4 separate regions of the Homo sapiens genome follow, and regions 2, 3 and 4 are each linked to region 1. Evidence: fine-mapped QTL for protein levels in blood plasma. A gene starts in region 1. Each other region holds a variant in brackets. All regions are shown on one strand. Distances are from middle to middle.

Region 1 (8,111 bases):
AACAAATAAAAGGCAAAGAATATACAGCTGTTTTCTGATTCTCAATGAGAGAGGTGGCAGGGAGGCTTCTACAACACCACCAGCCCCAGAATCTATATTCTTGTCAATTCCTCTCCCTTCCTCATGGCTCTGCCTGCAGGTCCACAGAGAGCTTCCAACCACTGTCCAGGGAGGCCGGTCAACCTTCCCTCCATGACCAGAACTGCAGAGCAGCTTGGGCCTCCCTGTTAAATTCTGCTTGTGAGTGGAGGACTTGAAGAAGTGGGGTAAGGTGGAGTAGGGTCAGGCATAGTTAGGTTTCCTGATGCTGTGGCCAAAAGTCTCAGAGAATCGCAGGTATCTTATGAAGGAGAAAGAAAATAACACATGTAGAACAAAACAAGATGGCATAATACCTGCCTCAAAGCTTGCAGTGGCAGCTTTGGCATTAGATTCTGCCCAGCTCAGTCCCCAGAATATGGATTCCCCTCCATGGAAGCATCTCATTGCTAAAAACCCTTACAAGATGTGTGAGAAACTTCTTCCCCCTTAAATGGCTGACTGAACAAATTTAACGGAGGCTGTTATCCACTGAGTTTAGTATCAAAGCTCTGAGATCCAGTTCTCTTTGAGTTTTTGCTTTCATCTGGAATCTTGCGCCCCTGCCCTCTTTGCTGCCGTCACTGCACAATGTCAAACAGCTGGAGTCTGGGCAGCACCAGAATCCAACTGTCTCAGCCTAACAAGTGAAGGGATGGGGGAAGAACAGATGGCGGGAGATGAGGAAGGTGGGGGTGTCATGGAGGACGAAAGGGGGCTGTGCTTGCTTTAGAGAATCTGATATCTTGGAAAAGTGGTCTCACGTGGAATTCAGTGTCAATAGATTCTATTTGTCTAGGGCTTTGCAAAATCAAGCACACAGAAGTGGCCTTGGACTATTCTATTTTTCATTTCTCTAACCCAGCTTCACCTCTCACTCAAACTTTTACTAATTTTCCCTCCATTTATTGAGTGCCTACCAAGGGTTTATATATACATATATACACATATATATATGTGTATGTGTATATATATGTGTATACATATATATGTGTATATATAGAGAGAGAAATAGTACATATATATTATTTCCAATATTCACAGAAACTAGGGTTTAGGGATGTAATTAATTTGTCTAAGCTCATGCAGCTTATTTAAGACTGGATTCAAACCCAGGTTTGTCTTGATGCCACAATATTCTTTTTTTAAAAATCTCATCCTCGGCCAAGCACAATGGCTCACGCCTGTAGTCCTAGCACTTTCGGAGGACGAGGCAGGTGGACCAGTTGAGCCCAGGAGTTCGAGACCAGCCAGGCCAACTTGGAGAAACACTGTCTCTACTAAAAATACAAAAAATTAGCCGGCCTGGTAGCAGGCACCTGTAGTCCCAGCTACTCCAGAGGCTGAGGCAGGAGAATGGCGTGAACCGGGAGGCGGAGCTTGCAGTGAGCCGAGATCACACAACTGCACTCCAGCCTGGGTGACAGAGCAAGACACTGTCAAAAAAAAAAAAAAAATCAACTGGGCATGGTGGTGTGCGCCTGTAATCCCAGCTACTCAGGTGGCTGAGGCAGAGGTTGCAGTGAGCCAAGATCACACCACTGCACTCCAGCCTGGAAGACAGAGTGAGACCCTGTCTCTAAATAAATAAATAAAATATCATTCTCCCCCTGGGGTACACTTGTCCATAGGGAGCCTTGTGGGGATCTGGTGATTAATTCCTAAAAGTCAACGGAACATATAGCCAGTAGGAATGCCTGAGTTGACAGCCTGGGGCTAGAGAAGTCAGTCCCAGCCAGTTCAACTTGTATAAGGAATAGATGGCATCATACCAGGCTCACCTGTAGTTCTGCCTGAACCATGCAATTTAGGGTTTAATTATACGCTGTCTTGCATTGTTTCTACTAATTGTTGCATAGGTCAATCTTATACTTTCATTCATCATTCTTCCTTCAGTCAACAAATATTTTAGAGCAACTGGGCATATTTCTTCTCCAGCAGCCCTTGCAATACCCAGCATAGAACGGTAAGCCAACTCAGATAACTAGTTAATGGTCCAGTCAAGAGCAAATGAGGGCTAATTTTCCTAATTATAAATTAATGGATTATGTTATGCATCTTGAAATTGTACTGAGATATTGCCTTAATAAATAGACACTTTATACACTCAACAGCTTGAATTTTAAAGCAGAAAGTTGGGTTCATGAATATCTCATTTCCAGTATCATTTATCAAGATAAAATGTCTTTATCCAAATATAAGCTTTTGAGAATAGTTATGTGTACAAAAGCCAATTTACTAATATTGTTAAAACTGTGAATTTTGGTATCTCGTTTATTTGTTTTTTTTTTGTTTTTGAGATGGAGTCTCGCTCTATTGCCCAGGCTGGAGTGCAGTGGCACGATCTCAACCCACTGCAACCTCCCGCCTCCCGGGTTCAAGCGACTCTTCTGCCTCAGCCTCCTGAGTAGCAGGGATTATAGGCATGCGCCACCACGCCTGGCTAATTTTTGCATTTTTAGTAGAGATGGGGTTTCACCATGTTGGTCAGGCTGGTCTCAAAACTCCTGACCTCGTGATCCGCCCCCCTCAGCCTCCCAAAGTGCTGGGGTTACAGGCGTGAGTCACCGCACCTGGCCGGTATGTCATTTTTAATCTTAACCCATACATCAGAACTCCATTCTCTTCCTGTATATAATATCCTTAGACTCTTACATTAGTTACAATTAGTAAGTTACCTTAGTTCTTGGAATGCACTTGAATGTCTCTTTCGAAAAAAGAAAAACACTCCTTGGAAAGCCCATAAAATACTTCTTAATGGCTAGACAAAATTTGGGCATTTTCTAAACAGTTTTTTTTTACTGCAAGAAGTAGCCTGCAATTCATGAAATAGTTGTGAAGTAGTGTGTTTCACTGGAAAAATCTTGGGTTTGGAATTCTTACCACCATTTAGTTGTTGGGGATCTCAGGCATGTTATTTAATTTTCCTTATCTATAAAATGGAGATAATTGCACCTATATAGCACAAGGTCATTATGGGGATTCAAGATGGAAGGTACACACAGAATCCAGGAGAGAAACTGGGAGAGGAAGGTGCTCAATAAACATTAGCTTATTTCTCAGAGGCTTGTTGAAAAGGTTAAATAAAATCATAAATATGATGCAGTTCATAGGGTAAGCAATTAGTGCCCAGCTCTTCCCATTGGAGTGTTGTTTCCACTAAAGTGAATATTTGGCAGTTGTTTTCTTTATTGTTCAGTGTAATCATTCAGACTAGATAATTCAATCAAGTCTTCACTTGGGACCTTGTGTTTGATGATCTCATTGTTGTTTTTAATTAAAATAATCTGAGAGATGGAAATGTACATTGGAACCACTGGAGGACAATTTTGTAATACCAACTAAAAGCATTTAAAATGTTATATCCTATCCATTGATCCCAAACTCCTACTTACATGAATTTACCCTTAGGAAATAATCAGAACAAAAAGATTTATAGCTAGATGTTTAGTCAACTGCAATACAGGATGATAATAAAAATGGAAACGATCTAAATATGTAACAATAGAAGAATGGTTGAATAAATAACAATCTCTCTCTTTGATGGGATAGTACACAGCAGTTAAGTCAAATTTTGAAGATTACATATGGGGAAAATAATCATTAAAATGTTAAATTTAAAAGCATGATAACCTGTATGTACAATGAACCCAAATTTGTAAAATATGAAAGTACCAGATAAATCAATGAAGAAGCTGGCTCCTGCCTGAATTACCAGATGCATTAAAAATTGTATAAAATATTGAATAAACTCACCCCAATTATGTTTCCCTTTAAATGTCTTTCAATTCTGATTCAATTAGAATCATATACTCAGTGTCGATAACGTGTTTATTTGTATTGATGAGAAACAAAAACAAGAAAGAAAAATGACTAGAAAAAACACTCCACTATGTTAATAACAATGTTATCCCTGGGTAGTAACTTTAAGTTGATTTTCTTCTTTTATGTGTTTTTCTACATTTTCTAAATTTTTGTCAGTGCACATATTTTATAATCAGGAAAGCAGATTTATATTAAAACAGAGGAAAACATCATCAAGTCCTTCTTTCTTGTCTACATCTTAATAATTTTCTCAGCATAATCCTCTCCAGATATCTTTCACAGTCAAAGAGATCCCTGTTTATATGATACAGGTAGAGTATCTACAGCACACTGAGAGGAAACCACGTCTTTTCATGTCATTCACTGAATTCCTTCCAGTTTATTCTGCACAGCCTAGCAACATAGTGACTTATATAGACCTACAATCCCTACTCACCTCCCCACTCCTTCCCCCGACCAAGCATTTAAATTAATGTGATGATCACTTCCATACCAAATGCTTCCTTCTTGGTGGAGGCCCATAACATTTCCAAGAAAGCAAGGTGCTAGAGGTAAATCACCATCAACAGAACGGACAGTAGCAAAAAGCACCTTACAAGATCCAGACTCCACCTAACTGTTTTGAAATGGCTAGAGATGCTGGAATGGGTTGGGGTGGGTTAAGATAGAGAAACTAATTGAAAGGGGAGGAGGGAATTAGGCAAGAAATACCCTCCAGGCAAAATGGAGTGGGGAGAAAATTCAGATACGTTGTTCTTACAGGACTAGTAGTAATAAACACAATCACATTAATACAAAGAGCAATAAAAACAATAAACATATCTGAGGTACCAACAGTGTGCTTGATGCCGCCAGCAGAATTAAGTCCTCTTTATTAAGCTGTGATCTGCATTCTGCCTAAACTATAAGAAAGGTGAGCAGCAGGCCGGGAGCAGTGGCTCATGCCTGTAACCCCAGCACTTTGGGAGGCTGAGGCGGGCTGATCACCTGAGGTCAGGAGTTCGAGACCAGCCTGTCCAACATGGTGAAACCCCGTCTCTACTTAAAAAAAAAAAATTAGCCTGGCGTGGTGGCAGGCACCTGTAATCCCAGCTACACGGGAGGCTGAGGCAGGGAGAATCGCTTGAATCGGGGAGGTGGAGGTTGCAGTGAGCTGAGATCATGCCACCGCACTCCAGCCTGGGTGAGAGAGCCAGACTCCATCTTAAAAAAAAAAGGAAAGAAAGAAAGGTGAGCAGCCTGCATGCATGAAGGAACAAGGCAGTGTGTCATTCTCCTGACTAAATGGTGCTGGTAGGGACTGTTACATTCTTTGTGTTCTGTTGTGTTCTGATGCTTAACTCAGAGCCTAGGGCTGTGTGGACCCAAAGACCAGAGTAAGAGAATGGAGAGTCCTAGGAGAAAGATGACAGAAGGGGTAGAAGATATCTTTGAGATGTCAAGCAACGAATAGTATATACAGGAATATAAAAGAATGAATCTGAGACCTTCATGCATCACGTTCTCATTGAGCGGTACTTGGAATCATCTTTGAAAAACAGAAGGCTGGATACGCTGCTTGGGTCCCTGGGGAGAAGGAGTGTTATCACTGCAGAGGAAGCTGGTTGACCCATTCCCTTGGGGGAATTAAAAGTTCTGTACCCAGGGTGGACCCCAGGCCTTGTAGTCCAGAATTGTGCCTTGGAAGGAGGACAAAAGAAAGTGGAAGCTAATATAGTCAATGACTGGAAAGAAAAATAGGTCTTTGAGAATGTTGGGGGAGATTGTTAGAGATTAAAAGGGAAGGAAAATTAGGATGATTAAGTAGGAAAAGGAAATGTAGGTGGATAATGCACAGAGAGAGTTCAGAGTCCTTTTCACCTTCTTGCTGAAAATGCATCATCCTCCAGATCCATTTTGCCAGAGGAACATGCCTAAGAATCCAGGCACAGAGCTGAAAGTACTCGATAAATCAAAAAGGAAATTGGCTTCTGCCTGAATGACTAAATACCGGAGAAAAAATAGTGCAAAATATGGAATAAAATACATTTATGTTTCCTTTGTAAAGGTCTTTTGGTTCAGATTCAATTAGAGTCCTATACTCAGTGTAAAGTATGTATGTTTACTGACAAGAAACAAGTTAATAAAAAACAAAACAGGGCCGGGTGAGGTGGCTCACGCCTGTAATTTTAGCACTTTGGGAGGCCAAGGTGGGCAGATCACTTGAGGCTAGGTGTTCAAGACCAGCCTGGACAACATGGTGAAACTCCGTCTCTACTAAAAATACAAAAATTAGCCGCGCATGGTGGCAGGTGCTTGTAATCCCAGCTGCTTGGGAGGCTGACACTGGAGAATCTCTCGAATTCAGGAGGCAGACTTTGCAGTGAGCCGAGATTGCACCACTACACTCTAGCCTGGGCGACAGAGTGAGACTCTGTCAAAAAACAAACAAACAAACAAACACACACACACACACACACACACACACACACACACACACACACACACACAAAACCCCCAGAGGCCCAGAAAAGTTAAGTGACTTTCCAAAGTCACAGTGGCTTCCTGACTCCCAGTGCAGCTGTCCAGCCACACAGGGAAGGCAGCACCCCCATTCACCCTACTACTAGCCTGGCTGTCTTATTTCCAGGACAGCTTCCTCACCAGCTTGGCACAAACTCCCAGTTCACTTTAAACAAATGGCTTAGCCCTGCTGGGACTTGGTTTTCTCAGCTGCAATGAAGATACGGAATGGATGACCGCTCACAACCTGTGCTTCATTCCTAAAAAATAAGAAGGGAATCCAATTTGCCACCAACTCAACATTTGCCTTCTCACTGCCCTGGAAAGGTAGTTTTTAAAACGTGGCCCCTGACCTGCAGCATCAGCATCACCTGGGAACCTATTTGAAATGCAAATTCCCAGGTCCACCTACTGAATCAGAAACTCTGGAGGTGGGGCCCAGCAAAGGGATTTAGCAAGCCTTCCAGGGAGTCCTGCTGCAGATCAAGTTTGAGAACCACAGCTCTGAAAGTTTTCTGACCAACACACACGCGCGCGTGCGCGTACACATACACACGCATAGGTAACTAACTTTTCCGTGGCCACTAGCACCCCCAACCCATGCCCCCAACCCCAGCCCCAGCTCTCCCTCCCCATTCCTCCCTGGCTCCATCCTGGGATGATGAATGGAGGTCAGGGCGCTGTCAATGGACGACGCGGCAAACCCTCCCCAACCGACCGAGGGGGTCGGGGGAGGCTGCGTTAAGGCTTCCCTGAGATTGGTTTCCTTATCATTTTCTCCACCGCCGCTGTCCCATTTTCTGATGAGTTTGCTTTTAATGATTTATCCAACAGTTTGTCTTGCAGAAGAAGAAGACCATTGAGAGGTGGGTGTCAGGAAAGTCTTGGAAGAGACTAGGCGAAAGGAGGGAAGGATTGTACATGGAAGAGCAAGGGTGCGAGGTGAAGCTAAAGAGAAAGTGAAGGCTTCAGGGGAGCCCCCTGGGTTCGGGGAAAAGGGAGAAGATGGTGCTTTTGGTATGGGAAAGCAAAAGAAGTTGGAGGAGAGCGCGGGTCTGAGGCACAGCAAAAAGTGGGTGTTAACGGGAAAACTGCCCTAGAGTTTGGGGGACTTTTTCCAGCTTCCTTTCCAAGACTTTTTCTTTGCTCCATTTTGCTCCTCCCCCTCCTCCCAGCCTCCTCCACTCCCTCCTCCTCCTCCTCCTCGCACGGTAATGGGAGGCTCCTAGGCAGGAGAAGCAAAAGAAGGAATTGTTTGCGAGTTCAGTCATCCAAAAAGCTTCTTCCATATGGAGGGACCGGGTGCGCTGGGCGCGGCGTCCCCTGCGTTGTCCTCCTGCTGCCGCCCCCGCGGCCGCCGCTTTCTGCCGCGGGGACCCTGAGCCCCGGCCCGCCGGTGTCAGCCGCCGCGCGCGCGCACAGACACACACACAGAGACACACAAACACACACAGAAAAGACACACACGCGCACACACGGCGCGCACACCCTCACGCCCGCCACAGCCACAACACGCCCGCACGCGCCCTCCCTCTCCGGCCCGCAACTTCTCGGTCCTCGGCTCCTTTGTTGCTCCAGCCGCGGCCGCTCGCCCGTGTTGTGTGTCCCCGGTGTCACCGAGCGTGTTGTGTGTCCGTGCGGCGCGGCGCTGTGTGGCTCCCTCGCGCCCACCACGCTGGCCCCCGGGCCCCGGCTCGCCCTTCCCA
Region 2 (6,104 bases), 46 kb after region 1:
CAGTGCATGGCAGAACTTGACATGGCAGAACTGTTCCGTGGGCCCCAGAGCAGGGCCGTGCCGTGCCTTCCTACTTGGTCATCCTGTGGCTGTAGGTGCACTGTCCCAACTGCTCACACACCTTCCAGTCCCCTCCCTCCATTCTCACCACAGTTACAGTC[G/A]GAGCAGGGAGAGACAGGACACCAAGAGACATGGGCAGGGCCACGTGTAGTCTGGACAGAGCCCACCCAGCCCAGACTTGGCCTCCTGTCTCTCTGTGAGGGGCAAGCATAGTCCGAAGGCCTGGATTATAAATATTAGAACATAATGAAAAGGAAACTGTGTGGCAAAGGGATAAAGGGATACAGAGAAAAGAAACAAGGAAGAGATGAGGTGACAGTTTGGACCAAGGAAAATGCCAAGAGAAGACTTCACACTACCTTTTTTTTTTCTGGTTTTGCCATTCTTTTATTCATGTTGTTACACTCAGTATAGGATAGTTTATTAAAATCATTATGTCTGTAGACATTCTATTTGTGATATAGAAATTGTGTTATTTCTGACCTCTATTTTTTCCTATTATGTGACAAAGAACATAGGTCCTCAGACCAACATGTGGAAACCAAGGGCCAAATGGCTTCTAAGGTCCCTCCCAACTGAATAATTCTGGTAAATTCCATTTCCATGTGCTCACTGACGGATGGTCCTAATAACCGCTCTTATTTCTTTTATGCTTGTGAAAGTCATAGTTTTTACAAAATTACTTGAGGGTGTATTATAAAGATTCAACAGAGCAAAGTAAAGGCCAAGTGACTTGACATAGTCATAGCTGGAAGAGGAGCCTTACCAAGACAGGTGTTTCTAGTTGCCATTATACTTATTCTACCTTATGAGGACCCATTGTATGAGGCTAGATGGAAGTGAGTAAACAGACGTCCTACCTTTGCATGTGACTGCCACTTGGTGTGCTGTGTCCCAGGCGCAACACATACACTATCTGATTTTCTACTCATTGTATGTATGGGCACGTGAGACTTGATGGATTCAATACACCACTGAAGGCTGGAGAGCACCCCTGACAGCCATTCTTATATGCTGAGCCTGTGGCCAGGAAGCTTAAAGAACTGCCTCCAATTTGGCCCCTTTCCTGGCGCCTGAGGTGTAGAAAATAGGGAAACTTGTTGAGACTTTAATGGTATGTGGATTTAAACTTTGAGAAGATTTCCAGGGCTTGTTCCCTCATGACTCAGCAGCACCCCGTTATCCCTGAAAGCCCTGCTTTGGGCATCCATGTCACCATCATCATCATCATCATCACCCTTGTGGATGACGTGCTTCCAGGAGGTTGGCGGTGCTACATCATGGGGCTTACCTAAGGCAGCGAACTTTTGAAATGCCCCTCTATCCAAGAAAGCTGGGGTCCTTGGGGTGGGTGAAGCTTGAGTCCTGGGAGGAGAGTAGGGAGGGATGGAGAAGCAGTAACAGAATGGAGGAAAGCCCCTACGTGCCCTCCAGTCCCCAGATCCCTGGAGGAGCTTCACTCTGTGGGTCAGTGGAATGGAGGCTGCCAGGATTCCTCTTTTCTTGGGACAGTCAAGCAAGGCCTGCCCTTTTCTCAGAGGGAAGGCAGAGTGTGTCCTCAGCTGTCTCCCTGAGGAGCCAGGCTGACACTGGGCTGCATCTTGGAGCCCCCCTCACAGTGGAGCCACTCCTCTTTGTGGCAGAAGGGTCACCCATGGAATCTGAGTGCCTGGCCTCGGGGAGCAGCCTGTGAGTGCTCAGGGAGGGAGGCAGGCCGTGGGTGGCTAGAGGGCCCTCCCTTCCAGCTGTGCTTGTTGGGCGGGGGCTGCTATGAGGCTTGGGTGTTGAAGGTAGAGGGTGCAGAGGGGTCATCTCATCACGTCAAGAAGGGCTGAGGTCAGAACTACGTTTCCTATCATTGTACAGTTCCCACCTCCACTTTGATATTTCCACATTATAATTGCATTATAGAATGTTTAGGATATATATAAAATAATCTCTCATAAGCCTGCTATCTTCATATAACCACCACCATCATTTTGGAGTATACCCTTCCAGTCTTTATCCCTGCTCATATTTTTAAGTTGTAATGATACAACAAATATACAAGTTCTTTTCTCTCTCTTGATGTTGTATGATAAGCATTCTCCATTGGCCATATGACCATGTTAACTTTTTTATTGAGTATAAAATGCATACCAGGTCTGGCACATAGAGATCAGAGATAATTATTACAATATGGCTTACACCTGTAATCCCAGCACTTTGGGAGTCTGAAGCAGGAGGATCATTTGAGGTTGGGATTTTGAGACCAGCCTAGGAACAAAAATTTTTTTTAAAAAAATAGCCAGGCGTGGTGGCGTGCACTTGTATTGCTAGCTGTCTCGGAGGCGGGAGGACTGCTTGAGCCCAGGAGGCAAGGCTGGGGTGAGCCAGTCTCTTACAAATGAGATGTGGCTTTTTTGGAGACCCTGTCTCCAAAAAACAAATAAATAAAATGCATACAGTAAAGTACACAAAGTGTACTAATCTTAAGTGAACAACTGATAACATTTTTCATGTACATCCACCCATGTAACCATCCCCAATGTCCCCTCATGCCCCTTCCTAGTTAGTCCACCCTCCCAGCCCCCACCAGTACTTATGATCGTAATTACTAGTGGTCCTAGAACATCTACCTTCTACCCTTTTCCTGTTGCTGGACAATTAGGGCCTTTCCAGTTGTTGATTATTGCAAATGAGATGCGCCTTTTAGCAATGCGTGTGCCCTTAAAGAGCAGCACTGCTCATTCAACAGGGAGGTTTCATCTGCAAATGGGCAGCACAAGTCTGTAGAGACTCAAGACCATAACCATTCATTTGGCCTAATTAGGAGCCAGGCTGAACCTTTTATTGTTTGGGAAAGGGAGAGTTGGAGAGTGGAAGATTTATCTTGGAGCCTTCCTTCTGCTTCAAGGTGTATCTGTGTGAGGAGAGACAATTTATTAGCCTTCATTTTAAAAATATTCCTGGCTGCTTCTTCCTCTGGTGCTTGAGGGGATCTGTGGTTGGCAGAAAGGACAAAGGGAAGTGTTTGGTTGCAACCCAAGAAGGCACAGTAAGAGAAGAAGGGGCTTGTGCAGAAGCCGAGCTGGGCTTATTTGAAAGCCAAGAACTATTGGCTTGTCATTTAGACATGAATCAGAAGGCAAAATGTTTGGGCCTGACTAGAAAGAAGAAGTGCTGAAAGTTGAGAGAGCAGGCATGGGGGGCTGTGTCATGAAAAAGAGGGAGTTGGTGGAGTGGAACTGCAAAGCTTGGAGGAGGCAGCAACGAGGTGGCGGGAAGGTGGGTGGGGGCAAGTGAAAGGGGTGCTGTCTTTGGGTTAATGCCATTAGGGGATCTGGCCCAGACGCAGCAGTAGATTAAGTTTCTGAAAGCACATTCCTGAGCAGAATAGGGGCTGTGTTTTGCTGGTTGGCTGATGTATGAGGGAGGCCAAGTGGTAGACGGGATTACCGAAGGCACGGTCTGCATTTAGAGGAAAGACTGGGCAGCGGCGTGCCGGTGCACACGCATGCACACCCACACACACTCAGCATGGTAGGCTTCCTTTTCCTCTGGCCTCTTCTCCACGCTGTCCCATGTTCATCCTCGCACAAAGCAGTTGCTGTCTGGCCTACCTGGCAAGATGCCACCTCCTGCATCCACCCTTTAGAAGGGTCATGGGGCTATAGGTCATGGGGCTTAGGACCAGGCTTGAGGATTCAGGGGTGGAGGGGAGGCCTCTAGCAGAATAATTTTCTGGTCCAGTGTTGGAAGCTGGAGGGTCCACTTGTACTTCACCCTGACCAGGTGACATCATCTTTTGATTTTCGGTAAAATGGAGCCAGAGGTCAAATCAACTGAAGAGTCTCACCTGCACTCTCTCCCTCCCTCCACCCCAGGTTGTCCTGGCCATGTGGGTAATGGCTGCTGCATGCTCTGTGGAGGTGCCCATCTCGCTGTCCTCTGAAGAGTTTTTTATTTCCTATTTAACCTAAACTTTAAAAAAAAAAGAAAAACTTTCTTGCTGCCAATGCCCTGCTTCAGATCATCTTGTCTAATTCTTGGTTTTTGAAATGCTTTTAACTTTGAACTCCTTCCTTTCACTTCCCTTTCCCTTTTCACAAGCCTCACACCAGGCAGCCAACCGCTCTACACAGCTCAGCTGTTCCCAGTCTGCTCCTGAACCAACAGCAGACCCTGCCAGGGAGCACTCCACTCCTTCTTACTGGACCCTGAGTTCCACCTCAGGCCTGTTCTCAACACAGTATGGCAAGGAGTCACAACCGACTCATCAGAGCTGGCAGTGGAAAAGCTGTTCTCAATCCCTTACCTCTAACAGTCAACCATTAATAATTGTTTATTTTTAACTTTTAAGATTTTTTGATAATTTTATTCTCCCAATTCTCCCATCATCCCTAGGTCCCACTGGTAGCTGGAAATAAAACAGGTGGTAACCAGGTAGCTACCTATAATTCTAAACTTGGGAATTTTAGTCCTCAAGTTAATGTGAAGTCTTAAGCTGCAGCCGGTATAATTGAGAACAGATCGGTCACCGCTCCTTAAGGCCTCCTAGCGCCAAGGCCAGGCATATACTCCTGAATGGTCCTGTCTCTGGCATCAGAGATCAGCAGGCAAGGTGGCTGACAAGAAAGGAAGGAGTCCCCCTCGCCACTCAACCTCATGAATCTCTGACTTTGAGAAAATGTCCAAAGTGACCAGGGGCCCTTTGTTACCATAATTTAATTTAACCCATGAATAAAATGAAGGGCCAAACTGGTATAATGGAAAAAACAAGAAGCTAAAAAAAATTTTTAAATTCTGGGTTTAAGCCTTAGCTCTGCCATTTAAGTGTTCCATGACTTTGAGCAAATCACTTGGTCTTTAGACTGACTGCCACAGCTGTGAAATGAACACAGTAATTACATCACCAGTCTCATGGGTTTTTTGAGGATAAATGGGAGAATGTATAATATTAGTATTTGAGAGCATTTTAGAAATCCCAGGCTTTATTTGTTCGCCCATGTGGTTGTCAAACATTTCTGGAGTGTCTCCTTTCTGGAGGCTCTAAAGCCCGTGTCCAGCCCTGTACTGCCCAGTTCCATTCTGGGAGTGACCCTTAGGAAGACAGTCCAGAGGGTGGCAGAGCTTCCAGTCATAACCAGAACCAATAGAGGGCTGGCTTCTTATAAAGAGAGAACTAACCCATTCCTGTGACTTTCTTAGTTCCTTATATACATGTGCTCTCTAACTCAGATTCCCACCCCAGCCGCCTTCAGGAGCAGCCACGGTGTCATGGTGCATTGTCAGTGTAGCCCGCAGAGCTGCTCACTGATGCTCCTGTGGGTTCACTGCTGCCCACTCAACTGCTGCCGTATACAGACAGCTGTTGTTTTGCACTGACAGGCTGGGCTGACCCTGGCCTTCAGCATGGTGAATCTTACAAACAGAAGCTATGTCTCTTTGCTCAGCTCCCCTAACCGCTAATTCCCATCACACACTTCACTAAGGTCACCTAGGTTCTGACTGTGAACTAGAATAGTCCATAGTCCATTAAGGACCATTGTAGCGATTTCTTTCTTAAAATATTTCTAGCTTCCTTTATCTCTGTATTAGGGTTCTCCAGAGAAGCAGAACCAATAATACATATATGTGTGTGTGTGTGTATATATATATGTATAATATATTTAATTTTGTATATGTATAATTATATATTATACAAAGATTTATTTTAAAGAGTTAGCTCATGCAGGCTGTAGATTCAGGTAAGAATTGATATTGCAGTCTTAGGGTAAAAGCAGGAAACTCAGGCATATTTTCTGTGTTGTGTTCTTCTCTGGAAAACATGTCTTTGCTATTAATACCCTCAATGATCAAATGAGGCCTATCCCCACTAGGGAGGGTAATTATTTTCTCAAAGTAAAAGATTGTCTAGCAAAGTTGACACATGAAATTAACCATCACAGTCCCCTACTGTCCACCTGAAATACACCACCTGCCTGGAGTTCTTTTGGAATATGTCTCTTTGGAGACAATGTGAAGAAATTAGATTCTCCCTAAGTCCAGCTCCCAGAATCATT
Region 3 (8,111 bases), 75 kb after region 1:
CTGAATGGGGTCTTGCTTCTGTAGGTCCAGGGTTTTTATGACATCTCCCAGTTAACCACAATGAGGAAATGTAGTTTGGAGCTTTTTAAATAAAAGGCTGGCATTGATGCTGGGATTGCTCACTGGGTGCATCCAGAGAGCAGCAGAGGCCAGAGCTGTGGTCCTTGGGCCTCCACACTCTGGCTTTGCAGAAGGATAGCATAAGGGGTCTTAGCTCAAAGCCCAGGCAGCCGTGGGGAGGTCTGATGTGAACACCAGTGGGTGGAGGGCTGTGGGGAGGAGCGGGCCCGTCAGGAGCAGGCCAGGCCCAGTGGGCATACAGCGTCATCTCACCCTGCTTCCTTCCTCACGTCATCTCACCCTGCTTCCTTCCTCACTGGATACGGTCTTTCCCAGCCCCAGAAGCTCCCGACAGGCCCACCATCTCCACGGCCTCCGAGACCTCAGTGTACGTGACCTGGATTCCCCGTGGGAATGGTGGGTTCCCAATCCAGTCCTTCCGTGTGGAGTACAAGAAGCTAAAGAAAGTGGGAGACTGGATTCTGGCCACCAGCGCCATCCCCCCATCGCGGCTGTCCGTGGAGATCACGGGCCTAGAGAAAGGTAGGGGCCTGGCCACACCGTGGCCTTGGCCTGATCCCCCAGCTGCCCCTTTCCGCCTGGAGGAGGATGACGAGCCTGGGATCCCCTTCTCTCGGCCCAGGCCCCCACCCACCAGCATGCCTCCATGTTGCTGTCTGTGGTGTTTACCACAGTCCTAAAGCCTTCTGCCTCCCTCCAGAAGAGCATCCAGAGCCATCTCCCCTGCAGCTCAGCTCTGACAGTGGCGGGTGTTCTTGTGAGGCCTTTGAGAACTTGCTTTGGGGAAGGGCTGCCCAGAAGACCCCTCCAGGTCCTGGGCCTTGAAAGGCCATGGGAGAATCAGAAGGTATTTCCCAGCTCCTGAGTTCAGTGAGTGTCCCTCTCACCAGGCACCTCCTACAAGTTTCGAGTCCGGGCTCTGAACATGCTGGGGGAGAGCGAGCCCAGCGCCCCCTCTCGGCCCTACGTGGTGTCGGGCTACAGCGGTCGCGTGTACGAGAGGCCCGTGGCAGGTCCTTATATCACCTTCACGGATGCGGTCAATGAGACCACCATCATGCTCAAGTGGATGGTAAGCGGGCCTGGCCGTGGACTGCAGTGGAAGACGGCCTCCCCTAAATGCCCTTCCCTGTGAGCCTGGGGATTAGACTCCCCCGAACAGGGCACCTGAAAGCTTCATCAGTGGAATTTGGGAGGCTCTTAGTGGCTGGAGCTGCTCTAGTGGTCTCCTGTTGATTCTGGTGCCTTGACCTGGTAGACCTCACCCTCCTTCCTGCCCTTCCCCTGACACCACAGGGGATCCCAACACAACTGTTCAGGGCCCCTTCTCAGCCACAGGGGCCCCTCACATGTCCAGGGAGATCAGAAGCAATTGAAGTCTTTGGAGAAATGGCAATTTGTTTCTTCTCTTCAAAAGCTTAGGGACCTCTAGGCTAAATAAAATAATGAGTAATCTTTACAACATTTTTCAGAGAACCTCAGGGATATCATTAGAAATCTTTGCCAGGGGTCCCAAGTGAAATTCAAACTCTGGACTGGGGTAGAACCTTCATACACCAGTGGTTTTGCTTTGATGATGTTTTCTCTGCCCATTGTCAACTTGTTTCTTCTCCATTCCCTATAGTACATCCCAGCAAGTAACAACAACACCCCAATCCATGGCTTTTATATCTATTATCGACCCACAGACAGTGACAATGATAGTGACTACAAGAAGGATATGGTGGAAGGTGAGACACAGTTCTGTGTTTATAGCTTCTGCGTGATATAGTTTCCTCCGCTGGCATGGGGGACAAGGTATTGGTGAAATCTGGTGAAGCATAAACCTGCATCTGGTGTGACACGAAGCTCTAAGCTCCGTGTCATTGACTCATTCATAATACCCTTGAAGCTGTCAACTTCATGAACCCATGTGATGATGGGACAACCTGGGTGGACACCTAGAACATTTCCTCCAGCGTTCCTCCACACGCCGCCCCTGTGCCAGTCAGTGGCATCCTCCCCCACACACTGCCCCAGCTGAGTCTGACTATGAGATTGGGATCAAGAAAACCATATACACATTGCCATGCACCATTCTCTGACTCTGTTTCCCAGGGGACAAGTACTGGCACTCCATCAGCCACCTGCAGCCAGAGACCTCCTACGACATTAAGATGCAGTGCTTCAATGAAGGAGGGGAGAGCGAGTTCAGCAACGTGATGATCTGTGAGACCAAAGGTGAAGCTCTTTGGGTTCTCTCTCCTGTCTTGGTGTTTCCAGCGAGGGAAGGCAGAGTCACCATTCCCTGTGCCTGTGCGGTGCTGGGCCTCTTTCCCAGGAAGACTCTTTGTTTTCCAAATACCCTCAGACTTGGTCATGTTTCACTCTCTACTCATTTGTCTGTGCCTAATACTAAATAGACCATGATGACACCTTCAAGGAACTTGATAATTAACTCATCCATGAAATCAGGGGATAGACCTCATTCTTAAGTTGGGAACTTCCTATAAATACTTTATTCCTGCAATGATATTTGGTGCTTACATGGGTTGGTTTATTTAACTGAACTACAATCCCATGAGATGGGAAAGGAAGTGGGCATGAGGAAGCTGTATACTGCAGCCAAGGCCATGCAGCCGGTTAGGGGTAGAGCATGCTTTGGGCCAGGATTGTCTTAACTACAAGACCAGCCCCTTTCTGTTGCACTTAAAACATGTTAAACATAGTCACATAATAACTTGTTAATATTTGCACATTGGTCAGATGGGGAGATAGCATTATCTCCGTTTTGCAGATACTGAAAGTGAGATAAAGCAGTTGTATTGCAAAGAACATAATCAGGAGAAGATCACAAAGGAATAGGAATAGAGACAGAACAACACATTTTTCTCTCATCAAGGCAATGGCATTCTCTCTCCTGCTTCACTGGCTTTCAGTTGTTCAGCAGATCCTCCCTGAGTGCCTCTGTGTCTCTCCCTGCCCTCTTCCATCATGCACACCAGAGGGAGGGCAGATACATGCACAGCCCAGAATCCTGGATCACCTGGTGCAGGGAGTGCCCAGAGGGAGGAAGAGACTTCATAAAGCCTTCACACTGGTCTTCTGGAAGGACCGAGTCTTAGGCTAGGATGAGGAGGGAGTGGCCTGGAGGACAAGGCTGGACATAGCTCCAGATGGTTGGGGTGTCAGGCACCGGGAAGGAGGTTATGGGAGTGAATGCCTAGGAAAGAGGCCACTGAGGATGGTGTGAGATGAGCCGGTGCAGCCAGGGAGAGCTGGAGCCACTGGAGGCTGTGAGGTGGAGGAGGGCTGTCAGTGGATTTGTCTGCTGAGATGGGTCACTGGTGACTGTGCAGGGAATGGGCTGAGGGTTGAGAACTGGGGCTCTAAAGTAAAGGTAAAGAGAAGGGATGGGTTTGAGTCTCTTTTCTAAGGAGGTGTGGGCGGGACCAGGGTCAGCTTGCATGCTAGGGCTGGGAGAGAGTGAAAGAAGTTAAAAATAAACTTCAAGGTTTCCAGCTGGAAGTACTGCACAGGTGATGTTGCCACTTATTGAAATGGCAACGGCAAGAAGACAGATTTCATGAGAAAGGAACAAGGTAAAACCACTTGGAGGCTTACTGAGTCTTTGACTCTTTGGAGACATTGAAATGAAGTGTCTTGATAAGGAGCAGAGCTCCTGCCCCGTGCAGGGGGTCCGGGTGGGGAGATTGGTTTGCGGCTCTTTAGGATATAGGTAGAAGTCACGGGACTAGGTGAGAATATACAGAGAGTACAGACGGGAGGAACCAGGAAGGCCTCCCAGTGTCTGTGGAGGCAGACGGCACAGAGAGGAAAGGAGAGGCATACAGAGCAGCAGAGAGGTGGGGGACATTAGGGGACAGAGTCCGAAAGCCGGGGGAGAAGATGGCCACGAGGGCCAGCAGGGTCAGATGCACCTCCTAACAGCAAAGCTAAAGTGAGGAGCTGATGGCCTTGACTCCACCTCTGAATTGGCATCTCACATGTACTGTGTGTCCTCGTGAGTCCGGGAACACCTGTCCCCCTGCTGTGATCCATGCTAATACCTAGTGCTTCACGTCTCAGTCCACCAGCAGGTAGCACGCTCTTGGGTGTCGGTAAATTCTTCCATTCCCAATTCTTTTTCTGGCTCCTGCATTTTAAATATTTTCTTCCAAAAGTTCACCAGTTCTTCCCAAAAGCACTACACCGCTTCTGCCGGAAGGACCCAGTCCAACTCTAGTGCATGGCTCACAGACATCTCGCTCTGCTTTGAAATATAAGGCTCAGGTCTCCGCCACAACACCAGATTTCACATTAGATTCCAATTTCATGCTGAGTGTGGACACCATTCAAATAAGAGATTTTGAGGCCCAATCTAGTGAGTCTGACCCCATTTCCCAAACCCATGGAATGGGGGTATTTTTTTTTCTATTTGTTGTGAAGGAAATATCAAAGAAACATATGCTGAAGTGAGTTTTGTCCACAATTACAGCTCGGAAGTCTTCTGGCCAGCCTGGTCGACTGCCACCCCCAACTCTGGCCCCACCACAGCCGCCCCTTCCTGAAACCATAGAGCGGC[C/G]GGTGGGCACTGGGGCCATGGTGGCTCGCTCCAGCGACCTGCCCTATCTGATTGTCGGGGTCGTCCTGGGCTCCATCGTTCTCATCATCGTCACCTTCATCCCCTTCTGCTTGTGGAGGGCCTGGTCTAAGCAAAGTGAGTGAGTGACGCTTTCAGTGGGAGGATCCTGGGTGGGAAATGGGGGCTCCACTAAGGAGGCCTCTGCCTAGGTCTGTGTCCATGGAAAGCTCAAGCCCAAGTCCCCCAAAGGTCTCGGAGGTCAGAGAACACCCAACGACTGGGCCCCTCCCCCAGCTCACAGACCTCGGCTTGGGGAGGAGGAAGGAGGGAAAGTTGGGCTGTCTTCTCTGCACCTTTGGAGCTCGGGACCTATGTTGTGCCATCTTCTGAAGTGTCCGAAGCTGCTCCTCTGACCTCACATTCCTACTTACAGTCCATCCTGCCTCTTCCCTGGGTGCGGAGCTGCCTTCAGCTTTCCCCTCTATCCTGGAATCTGACTTTTAGTCACTAATTTCTGCTTCAGATGGCAAAACATCTGGTCAGCTTACCTCCTCTAAATATTGTTCTTCTTTTCACTCACCGCCTCCTGCCCCCAAGCCCTGGACCCTGTATCTCCCCACCCTTCTCCCTGCAGAAGAGTCTAGGTGTCAGGTAGAAATGGGCGACACAAAGGAGACTCTAGGAGAAAATGTTCTCCATCGCTTGGGCACTGTCAACTCCCTGCCTACGTCCTTCAACCCTCTGTGGCCAGGAGCCTCCTGAGATCCTTGTGGGGCTTTTCCAACCCATCCCGGGCTACCTTGGCCTAAGCACACCTTTATTTTTCTGTCCTTCCAGAACATACAACAGACCTGGGTTTTCCTCGAAGTGCCCTTCCACCCTCCTGCCCGTATACTATGGTGCCATTGGGAGGACTCCCAGGCCACCAGGCCAGTGGACAGCCCTACCTCAGTGGCATCAGTGGACGGGCCTGTGCTAATGGGATCCACATGAATAGGGGCTGCCCCTCGGCTGCAGTGGGCTACCCGGGCATGAAGCCCCAGCAGCACTGCCCAGGCGAGCTTCAGCAGGTAGCGCATTCTTGGGTGTGGGCGGCAGGTATGGGACACCCAGGAGGGAGTGGCTGGGCTGCCTTGGGGGGCCTCCTCCCTCCTAGGGTCTCAGGCTGGGCTGCTGGGCCAGGCTTTCTTTAGTCAGGAGCAGATGCTCCTGTTGTTGAGTGAAGACTGGAAAGTTACCTGGACTCCCCGGCGTGGCCGTCTCATTACTCTTCCTTTTGAGCAGCAGAGTGACACCAGCAGCCTGCTGAGGCAGACCCATCTTGGCAATGGATATGACCCCCAAAGTCACCAGATCACGAGGTAACCAGGCCTCTCCCCTTTCACTCCCAAGCCCCACAGCCTCACTTTCCCTTTAGCTCCTCAAATCCAAGGCCTGTCACTGAGAGCCAAGCAGTAGTGCTGTACTCAGGGGTCCCCGTGACTGACAATCATGCTCCTCTGAACCATTGCCCTAATAGGCAGTTGTTGCATTTGCAATTGCGATGCCCTTTCTGCCTGAGGGCATGGCTTGGCATCTCGGAATCCTCCGTCACTAGACAGATCAGAAGCACCCACCACAACTGACTTTGCCCATGGGCCCCTGGACACCTGACTTCACATTCTCCCACATGGAGTAAAATGGAAATGGACTAGAATGATCAGTGGGAATGATGGTGTGGTACCTCTTGATGTTCAAAGGGGAGAGCAGTCCTTGCCCCATCTGAGCTCTCACCAGCTCTGATGCCCTCAGACAGGGAGACAGCCAGCAGGGGGATGGGGCGACAGGCCCACCCTGCCCAGCCCCACCTCCCCATCTGGGCTTGTGCACTGCAGGGGTCCCAAGTCTAGCCCGGACGAGGGCTCTTTCTTATACACACTGCCCGACGACTCCACTCACCAGCTGCTGCAGCCCCATCACGACTGCTGCCAACGCCAGGAGCAGCCTGCTGCTGTGGGCCAGTCAGGGGTGAGGAGAGCCCCCGACAGTCCTGTCCTGGAAGCAGTGTGGGACCCTCCATTTCACTCAGGTTGGTTCCAGGAGCAGGGCAGGGAAATTAAACAGGCTGGGGGTGACATGAGGTAGGCATCCACAAGCCAGTAGTAACAGTCTTCAAAGGTGGGGCTTGGTAAGGAGCCAGCCACAGCATTTATGTGGGAGGGATGGGGCATCGAGGGTGGCTGGCCACTTTCCTTCACTGCTGAAGGCCCAGTAGGTCTGTGGGATGTCCAAGTGGGTTCTACTGCAACATGATAAGCTGCGGTCCTCAGCCTCTGAGAAAAAGGCTATTTCTCCATTTCAGAGAAAAAAGCCCTTTTTGGTCTGTGCATTTCAAGGCCATTCACAAATTCCATTTGCTGCTCATCACACTAAGAGGCATTCTCTAATCACTCTGAAATGCCTTGCTTTGTTGAGGCTTGTCTCTTAATTAAGGAATAAGGTTGCCTCAATCATTAAGGAGCCAAATTCTTACAAACATCATCATCATAACTCTTTGTACTTCCACGGAACTTTTTCTCCAAGGAGTTTTGGGCCATTCACGCTAAGCCCATCCCATTGTCTTCCTCCATGCTAGTCTCCTTAGAAATCAGTGGATACTTGGTGAGGGCACCAAGTATCCACTAACGTTTCTTAGCTTCTCTGTGTGTGTGCCCATTCATAGGCAGATCCTGGACTCTGTCTCTAGGAGATTAAATTTAAAAGATGCTGGGTCCTAAAGCTCGACCCAGCATCATTTAAACTGGACCGTGTCAATCTGGGGGGACTGGATTGTGAGTGGGATGATTGTAACCAGAAGCCATAGCAAAGGGTGGACTAGCCGCCTAAACATAGAAAGAGCAGGGCTTCCTTCTGCGTTTCACGGGCTGCACTGACTTCATCTGCTCCTGTGGTGTGGGCTCAGTGCGGGAGTCTCTACAGTCCCAGCATGAGTGGGAAATGGGTGGCAAGTGGCCCTCCCTGTTTTGATGAGAGACCTTGGAGGGAACAGAAGTGCCCTTGTCTCGGTTGTAGGTTTCTGTCCCCTTTCCAGAGCCAGTGTAACCACCTCCACCACAGATAGAGATTGGCCCAGTGTCACTGGGTGTTGGCTCCTCGGTCAATCTGGATTTTAATGGTTCCTACTCTTTCTCCCCTCAGGGCCCCCATGCTGCTTGGGCCTTGTGCCAGTTGAAGAGGTGGACAGTCCTGACTCCTGCCAAGTGAGTGGAGGAGACTGGTGTCCCCAGCACCCCGTAGGGGCCTACGTAGGACAGGAACCTGGAATGCAGCTCTCCCCGGGGCCACTGGTGCGTGTGTCTTTTGAAACACCACCTCTCACAATTTAGGCAGAAGCTGATATCCCAGAAAGACTATATATTGTTTTTTTTTTAAAAAAAAAAAGAAGAAAAAAGAGACAGAGAAAATTGGTATTTATTTTTCTATTATA
Region 4 (8,111 bases), 55 kb after region 1:
GGCTGTGTAGTATGTTGATTCAGTGAGCCAAAACACAGTTTGAGGAGCCTTTTGCACCAGAAGCCAAGGGAAAGATTGATTTGCCGGCTTGAAATCACTGGACTCCTTTAAGGAGCATGGTGCAAGATGCTTTCTTTAGAACAAAAAAGAAAACCAAGAGAGCAAATGAGTCCTTGGTTCCCTCATTTTTTAAAAACAGCTTCACACCTCAGCATCCCCTGTTTCTCGTGTGTGTGTGGAAAAGTTGAGCAATTTCTACTTTGACTTTGTTTTTAGACTTTCAGCCATTTTTGGAGTCTGGTAATAATCTTGAGCTCTATAGAACAGTGAGTCTGTCCTGCAAATAGACGTAGTGTTCACATCCAAATTAAAGGATGATCACTTCATAATGAGAAAAAATGTAAACAAAAGGAAAAAAACTTGCTGAAGTAGAAACAGCATTTATTTTCCTATAGGGAGAATTGTGATTAATAGTGAGGTGCTTACAGCCTTTCCCTCAGGCCCACTTTCCATCGCGCACTTTCTCCTAGCTTTCAGAATGGTGGTCCCTCAGCTGGCAGCATCTTCCTCTCCATCTCCGTCCTCAGAAAGTTCCCACCTCTGTTGGGTTACTAATTCCTTCTCAGTTTTCAAGACTCAGGTATCTTCTCTAGGAATGTTTCTTGACCCCTTCAACTTCCAAGTCTAGAGTAGGTTCTCTTCCCGGCTTCCTTAGTACCTTGGGTTTGCTTCCACAGCCCTTTCTTGCCTCTCTATCTGGAGGGTAGGAACTGTTATTATGCATCTGTGTCCACAGTGCTGTCCACGGGGCCTGGCACACCATAGGCCTTCTGTGAATGTCATGAAAGAGGAAGACTCCCAGATAAAACATGTTTGAGGTCTAGAAGATGAAAAAGGGCATACACAGGGTAAATTAACAATTTCTGAATTTCCTTTTCAAATTCTGATATATTTAAAGTTTTCAAGAAGTATATAAGAAAGGATAAAGCAGGGACTCAGGATACAAAGAGGTTGAAGATACAAATGGATTCAAGAAAGACTTAGAAAAATTGATGAATGTCAGAAGCATAAAACAACATTGGAAAGAAACTGAGATGTTTGGAGGAAATTCTGGAACCTCAGGGAGATGCCAGTGAATTTGGCTCCATGACCTAACACAGGGGTCCCCAACCCCCAGGCAGCAGACCAGTACCGTTCCATGGTGGTGCATGGCCTGTTAGGAACAGGGTCACACAGCAGGAGGTGAGCGGTGGACCAGCAAGCATTACCATCTGAACACCACCTCCTGTCAGATCAGCAGTGGCATTAGATTCTATTAGAATAGAATAGAACAGAACAGAACAGAACAGAACAGAACAGAACAGAACAGAACAGAACAGAAAGAACAGAACAGAACAGAACAGAACAGAACAGGTTTTCACCATTCAATAGAATAGGGTTCACCATTAGAGGGTGAACCCTACTGTGAACTGTGCATGCGAGGGATTTAGGAGGTTGTGCGCCCCTTATGAGAATCTAACTAATGTCTATTGATTTGAGGTGGAACAGTTTTATCCCAAAACCATCCCCCCCAGTCTCCCCACCCATGGTCCATGGAAAAATTGTCTTCCATGAAACCCGTCCCTGATGCCAAAAAGGTTGGGGACCACTGTCCTCACATATACCTCAAGGGGCATTTTGGAGTGGGTGGATGGGATTGGTGCCACCGAGGCTGATGGGAGTATGCAGTTTCCAGGTGTGTGGGAAGAAAAAGCAGGCCCCACTGCCCCGTCTCTCCCACCTGGAGTTCTGTTCATCACAGCCACACCAAAGTGCTCATCCCCATTCTTTCTCTCAGCTCCTCAGCCTCCGCTTTCTCTCCTCCCTCTCTTCTTGCACAGGCTGCCAGCCCTTCCAAAGCCTGTGCCAGGATCCAGCTCTGGCTCTGATGAGTCCAGACCACCAGGACTCACATTAATTTTCCCACTGCTAAGTTTATAGTTTGTATTTGGTTGATCAGAGAAATATGTGTGATGTGGGTTGCTGGCAAGTAAATCTTTTTTTCCTTCTGCTCTTTCTTCAGTATATTTTTTTTCTAACTATTTCATTCCTTCATCTAGTCCAAAAGAAACTCCCCAGTTCTGCTAACCAGCCCTACCTCAGAGCGGCCCTGAAGTCGGGTAGATGAGATGGTCTACAGACCAGACATCTGTGTTCATCTGGCTGCCAGACCCAGTGGAGACATGGCTCCATCCTTGACTTGTCTTTGAGGATTAATCGCATTTCTCGTTCTCTTATGTCTTTTTTAAAAATGAAGTATTTTTAATTGGTTCAAGCCAAGAAATTCCTGAAGCCTCAGGCCAATTCATTGCAAATCATTTAATGACATTGCAAAATAGGTTCTTTTTAGTCTCTCTCCTTCTTCCTCTCCCACTCCTCCCTTCTGGCCTGCTTTCCCCTCCTGCCCACCCCCAGATTTCTCTCTCCTGTCTTGACTTTGATTTTCAGCCCTCATCCCCCAGTCTCTTTCATCTCTTCCCCAATCCCAGCTTTCTTCCACTGCTCAAATCTGGGTGTAAATCCCACCTCAACTGAAAGGAAAAGAAAGAAACAAGATTTAACAACTAATGTGCTTGGCATCTACAAAGGTTTGTTTTTTTTTTTAATTCTTCTTCTTCCTCCCCATGGAAACTGTTTTCTTTAAATAAAAAAGAGCATGCCTTGCTTTCATCAGAAAGTGTGTTTGAGAAATTTCATGTCATGTTTCCATGGTTGTCAGGAGAGAGCTTGGGAGCCAAAATTATTTGTGCAATTGGACAGGCAGAAAAAAATCCCAAAGACAGCAAACATATTTATCCAGTCTCCCTGCCTGCAAAGGGAGGAGCAGTACTCACTCTGCCAACTGTGTTTCTAAGTGTCTCTGTAGATTACAGTGTTGACTTAGGCTGGAGTGCTGGTGGAGGTGGTGAGGACTACGCTGGAGAACACCACGCTTGTGAATTATTGTGTCCTGCCTTGTCTATGTGATTGAAAGCTCCCTGTGGTTAGGAGCTATGTCTTTTCTTCTTTGTATTTTCTGCAGTGCTTGGCATAATAGACAATTCTGCAGCACCTGGCTTGCTAAATGAATGACTCAATGATGACCAGAGGGATGGTATTTTACCAAATGCTGGTTTTGTCCCGCTTTGTGGGCTGCAGGGGGTCTATGTGCCAGGGCTAAAATACTTAGTCACTACCCCAAATGCATGGCTTCTGAGATGCCTGCCCAGCCCACAGTAAACCCCAACCACTCACCAGGTGCCAGGCTTTCTGACCTCATGAGAGCACAATGAGGCTCCAGCCTTCTGTTTCTGTAGTTGTCCCACATCCTCAGCAGAAAACTGCCATGGCGTTTCACTTGCAGATCATTTTATTTCAGAGGAATAACCTTGGGGTCATGCCAAGCTATGGTCCCTCAAGTGACTTGGGGGTTGAGAATTGTGTTGGGACTTTTTGTCCATCAATGAAGCAGTTTGGGACACAGGAGAGCCCCCATATTGTCCAGGGGCAACATAGTGAGGAGTGTCAGGGACCCTTTGTCTTCTCAGACTCTACAGCCAAGTCTGTCTGATAGCCATGAGCCAGAAGCTCAACCAGAGAAAACTCTTAGTGACTTTACTTCTCCTGCACCTCGGGTGTCTCTCAAAAAGGGACTGAGGTGCAGGGAAGGACCAAAGGATCAGCATGCCACTGAGTAGTGCTCCAGTAGAGCAGAATCCTTTGTGCCTTGTAGCATTAGCCACAGATGCAGCAAGCTGCCACAGGGACAAGTTGAGGCTTGGAGGTTGTGACAGTTGGGGAATAGAATTATCCATCAGTCCAGAAACCTGCCAGTGGCCCTGAGGCTGCTAAGTCATCCTGGCAGCATTGCCACATGAGCCCCATGCGGTGCCCCGTGACCTAATGGATCCCATCCAGACCTCTGTAGAGGAATGCAGGCTTGTCCTGTGATCCCCAGGAACAGGCAGGAGGGTAGGACAGGACTGTGCATGAGAAGTACCTGCAGGGGTAAAAGGCCAAAGTTTCTTTAAGCATTCAGCAGAGCTCATGGATATGGGGATATTGGTAACTCCATGAAGCATCCAGCGGATGGTGGCGTCTTACTTCTCTTCTTACTTCAAACAGAATCGAACTTCAATTTGCAGCTTAAAGGAGAATGCAGGAGAAGATTGAATGAATAACTCCCTTGGAAGTGATTGATAGGTTTATGGATTACACCTGGGGCATTTAACTGAGACCCAACACATCCTGTAGTTGGACACGTAAAGTCCATGAAAATTGGGGGATAAGCTTACAATTAATATTTGACAATTTGTGTTATGAGAATGCATGAACATACACCAAATACTGTAATTTAATTCATAGCTCTGCCAAGCCTTTTATTAATAAAGGAAAGATAGAGACTAGAAGGTGGTGAGAAAGAAATTCAAGAGACATTCAAGATAAAATGTGCCAATTTGCGGTTTCACATGTGATCTGCTGATGGCAGCCACATCTATGTACCTTTGACAGTCTAATTTGCTTTCTGTTTTTCCCATAGCCAAAAG[G/T]GTCTGTGCCTGATGTGCCCTTTGAATGTGAAGAGAACACAGAGTACATCACATGATGTGTGTCTGAACACATCCCTGTAGCCTCTGTGTTCAGACAGCCTACAGAAGTGATGTATCAGAGTGTACGTATTCCCTTTGGAAACTGAGCTCCCAGAAGGAAGGAACTGGGCCGGGTTCTATATGGAGCCTAAAATATCATGGGCTTTCTCAGAAATCACAAAGCTCTGTGACAAGTAAATAAGGTCAGTAAACTCAGAGATGGCCCCAAAGACCAGGACTTCTGACCTGTTGGGAGCTGAGAAACAAAAGTGGGTCTACTAGCGTTTGATTAATGCGGACAAGTTAATGAAGTAGCTGGAAAATGCACAAAGAGAGGATGCAAAAGAAGGGTGCGAGGGGAGGGAAGGTAAGAGGATTAAAGCTGCAAAAACATTCCTCTAATGGATTTCTCAAACACACCAGCCAACAGGCAAGGGCAGGTGTCCTGTCAAACCATTTCCCCATGAAACCTGATCCATCTTTCTGCAGCGGAGGCCTGCTAACCCTATTTGTAATTGAAGGGCCTGTCCCTTATTTCCAGTGAAGCACACTGAGCAGCCTAGGGACTCGGCCAGGAAACCAGCTTTGCAGACAAAGGGGCCTGGGAACAGGCTGGTTTCCTTCATATGCGCCAGCTAGAGCTCCTCTCTGCATCTGCCCCATCTGATGGCTGGTTAGGCTCTTATTGATCATGAACTCCCCACCCCTCCCTGGCCCCCTTCCTGTCCAAAAACACTAGAGAAAGGGGTCCTCTGATTTTCAGATCATTCATCACTTCATTATTCTGCCTTTGATCCCTTAGTGAAACTCAAGTTTTACTCAAGCAGCCAAATTGGGAGTGTTTAAGCTAAGGCTTAAGCTTAGGAGGCACGGGGGGAGGGGGGATAGAGGGTAGGAGGGACAGGGCCAAGGACCGAACTGCTGCTTATTTGTTTTGAAGCCAGGAAGGCTCGCCTGCCAGTCGCCCCTTGTGGGGAGCTGGATGTCCAGCTGGGGTGCCCTCGGTCCTGCCTGCACAGGCTGTTGTGCACATGTTGGCATCAGAACAGAGGGGCTGTCTGGCCGCATGGCTGACCAGTGCCCAGCTTCATGCTCCCCCACTGCACAGCCTTCTGTCTCCAACTGAGCAGCTGTCAGAGGGTGCAGCAGGAGCCAAGAGGGGATTAAAAGAGACAGTGTTTTCTACCACTGGGTTGCTGAGGTGGGTGCCTGGCAGAGTGCATGCTCCCTCCGTGCCTGGATAAGCCCTCAATTACAATGGGCAGGAGCCTGGGGCCATGAAGATGGAGATGGCATCCTGGTGCCAAACTCCTTTCAGTTCCTTACATCTTTCTTGCAAAATGATCTGCTAGCTTTAAGTATATTCTTTGCTTAAGGCAAATTTCCTTGGAATGAGGTGAAGAAAAGGAGGAGGAAAAAAAAAAAAGAAACCTCTTGGTGGAGTAGTTTGGGACTTATTCGACCATGGAGGAGAGTGCTTCACAGCGCCTGAGGAATTTTCCAGATGCCCCTGAGCTCACAATCACTCACAGCTCACAATCATTCACAGCTCGCTTTGTGGGGAGCCTCCTGACTTGGCAGGTACAGGGCGCACTGGCCTGAAGGAGGATTAAGGCCTTTGCATTTTTTAAGTGAATTGCTTTCAGAAAACAAAGTTACCGATGTTTAGCTAGAACATGTTGAGCTCAAGCAATTCCTTTCCCATAGTCCAAACCTTCCTCTTCTCTGAGAGAAAACTCATTAGCTATCTTGGCTGAGAGGCTCAGCCAGGACTGGGCTAAATAATTTGTGGGACCAAATGCAAAATGAAAATGTAGGGTCCCTTGTTGAAGCATTATTAAGAATTTTCAGATGATGAAAGCAGAGCATTAAACTGGGTGTTACCCCATCAAGTGCAGAGGCAGGTTGCACACCCATCAAGCTGGCCTTGGGCTCAGCCTTCCAAACTGTATTTATTTAGCAAGGATTTAGAAAGCATTTGCTGTATCCTCAGTACTATGCAATAGAACTTGGGGTTGGGGTGAAGAGTGAAAAATTAATAGGCTTCTCACCAGGAATTTATCGTTTAGTTAGGCTCAGATATCACACACAAAACATTAAATAATTTTGAAATCATTATTTAAAAGCCCAGGAGGCCCTACACTTACCCACAGGAAGGAATCTATGAGAGATCTCGCCTTGACCCGCAGGCATCATGCTTGTTCAGCCTGGAAAGTGAAATGGGGCAATAGAAAGGAATCAGACAGCCAATCTCTGTTTTTTGTTAAGTTTTGTGTGTGTGTGTGGGTACATAGTATGTGTGTATATTTATCAGGTACATGAGATGTTTTGATACAGGCATGCAGTGTGAAATAAGCACATCATGGAGAATGGAATATCCATCCTGTCACTGTTTTTAACACATCACTCCTTGAATAGCATGTATTTCTTACAGCACATTTATTAGACCCATTTCACTTCTTTCTTCAGATCCCACATAACGTCTCAAGAAACATTGTATTTGCAAAATAGCTTCCATTGGCCACACTTAGATATAATGTTCACAGAACATTTGTTATGCTAGGCTCTTGTCTGTTTGTTCAAAATGTAGACCAACTTCAACTATGAATTTATGAGTTCAACTATGAGTTTCTAGGCAGCATAATGGGCATCTTGTACCTAACTCGTGGGGCTCAGCTTCCAAGATATTCATTCGTTCATTCATTAACATTCATTCATTTATTCATTCAACACTTGCCAAGTGTGTACTTGGGCCAGGACCTGGGTTAGGTTCAGGGGACACAGACAGGAACAAAACTCGGTCCACGCCCCTAAAGAGTTCATAGTCTAATATTGTAATCAAAGGGACATCAATCCTTTCACAGAAACAACAGGGCTTCCTCCCCTGTGTTGGCTTGAATTGACTAAGAGTTGCTGGGAAGTTCCATTACGTGGGAAGCCTCCTGACCTCACTGAGTACCTTAATCACCAGGCACTCCTAGGGTGACACCAGTTTGTTTTTGGTCATTATCTCTTGTCTTCTGTGAGAAACCTGATTCCAGCCCTCTCTGGGTCTCCACTGGAAACAACAGCAGAGGCAGGTGCAGTCTTGCAGTGAAATTGCAGTCAGTCCCAATGCTGTCAGTCCCGGGAGCTGAGCAGAATTTGGTGTGGCCAGTATTCGGAGAAGGTGCCTTCAGGGCTTTCTGAGTACCTTTAAGAAGAGAGTGTCTGGGTAAAATATTTCCATCTGTCTTATACTCCATTAGTTTTATTTCTCCTCTTAAATTCAGCTATAATCCTGAAAACCAGATTTCCAGCTTGGAATGCATGCAGTTTTGTTGTGCAAGTGGTCCCTGTTTTACTCAGCAACATGAGTGATTTGTCTCATACAAAGAGAGATTTGTTGTTTGGACTCTTGCATTGTTTGGGAAACATTCTGCTTTTATTCTAGATGAATCTCCATGCTCTCCCAGTTTAGATCCCATGGTGCCAAGCCAGGAGAGATGGCTATGGGGCTGCCAGAGA

Alleles and levels. Positions count from the first base shown, and alleles are read on the strand shown. Strength reflects both the effect of a copy and how common the allele is.
For the plasma level of the protein whose gene starts at base 7,671 in region 1, allele G in region 2 goes with a higher level than allele A (moderate association).
As copies of C replace G in region 3, the plasma level of the protein whose gene starts at base 7,671 in region 1 goes down (moderate association).
With allele T in place of G in region 4, the plasma level of the protein whose gene starts at base 7,671 in region 1 is lower (weak association).

The links. PIP is the posterior inclusion probability: the model's chance that the variant is causal. The UK Biobank Pharma Proteomics Project read protein levels with antibody pairs (Olink). The fine-mapping took linkage between variants from a reference panel, not from the people measured, so its PIPs are less certain.
Region 2: its variant is fine-mapped to the plasma level of the BOC protein (UK Biobank, PIP 0.99).
Region 3: its variant is fine-mapped to the plasma level of the BOC protein (UK Biobank, PIP above 0.99). The variant lies in the coding sequence of BOC. If it changes the protein, the assay may bind it differently, which can mimic a change of level.
Region 4: its variant is fine-mapped to the plasma level of the BOC protein (UK Biobank, PIP above 0.99).

Annotation. Positions count from the first base shown.
Region 1 is chr3:113,203,887-113,211,997 of GRCh38, forward strand. It overlaps BOC (BOC cell adhesion associated, oncogene regulated), which reads left to right and starts at 7,671. Exons shown (of 20, transcript NM_001378074.1): 1 at 7,671-8,111. LOC124909486 reads right to left here. Exons shown (of 2, transcript XM_047449436.1): 2 at 3,511-8,111. The coding sequence ends at 7,669. RefSeq lists an enhancer at 8,032-8,111.
Region 2 is chr3:113,251,081-113,257,184 of GRCh38, forward strand. The region is part of intron 4 of BOC (BOC cell adhesion associated, oncogene regulated); the gene reads left to right. Among named protein-coding and RNA genes, the nearest start is that of BOC, 43 kb to the left of the region's middle. The variant G/A (reference allele first, on the strand shown) is at 162.
Region 3 is chr3:113,278,853-113,286,963 of GRCh38, forward strand. It overlaps BOC (BOC cell adhesion associated, oncogene regulated), which reads left to right. Exons shown (of 20, transcript NM_001378074.1): 12 at 397-603; 13 at 972-1,153; 14 at 1,706-1,811; 15 at 2,179-2,301; 16 at 4,559-4,780; 17 at 5,483-5,715; 18 at 5,930-6,006; 19 at 6,520-6,713; 20 at 7,823-8,111. The coding sequence ends at 8,010. CFAP44 (cilia and flagella associated protein 44) reads right to left here. Exons shown (of 35, transcript NM_001164496.2): 35 at 8,078-8,111. It overlaps SPICE1-CFAP44 (SPICE1-CFAP44 readthrough (NMD candidate)), which reads right to left. Exons shown (of 52, transcript NR_183050.1): 52 at 8,078-8,111. Among named protein-coding and RNA genes, the nearest start is that of BOC, 71 kb to the left of the region's middle. The variant C/G (reference allele first, on the strand shown) is at 4,646.
Region 4 is chr3:113,259,341-113,267,451 of GRCh38, forward strand. The region is part of intron 4 of BOC (BOC cell adhesion associated, oncogene regulated); the gene reads left to right. LOC124909409 (a long non-coding RNA gene) reads right to left here. Exons shown (of 2, transcript XR_007096006.1): 1 at 6,752-8,111; 2 at 425-4,163. Among named protein-coding and RNA genes, the nearest start is that of BOC, 52 kb to the left of the region's middle. RefSeq lists an enhancer at 5,710-6,328. The variant G/T (reference allele first, on the strand shown) is at 4,566.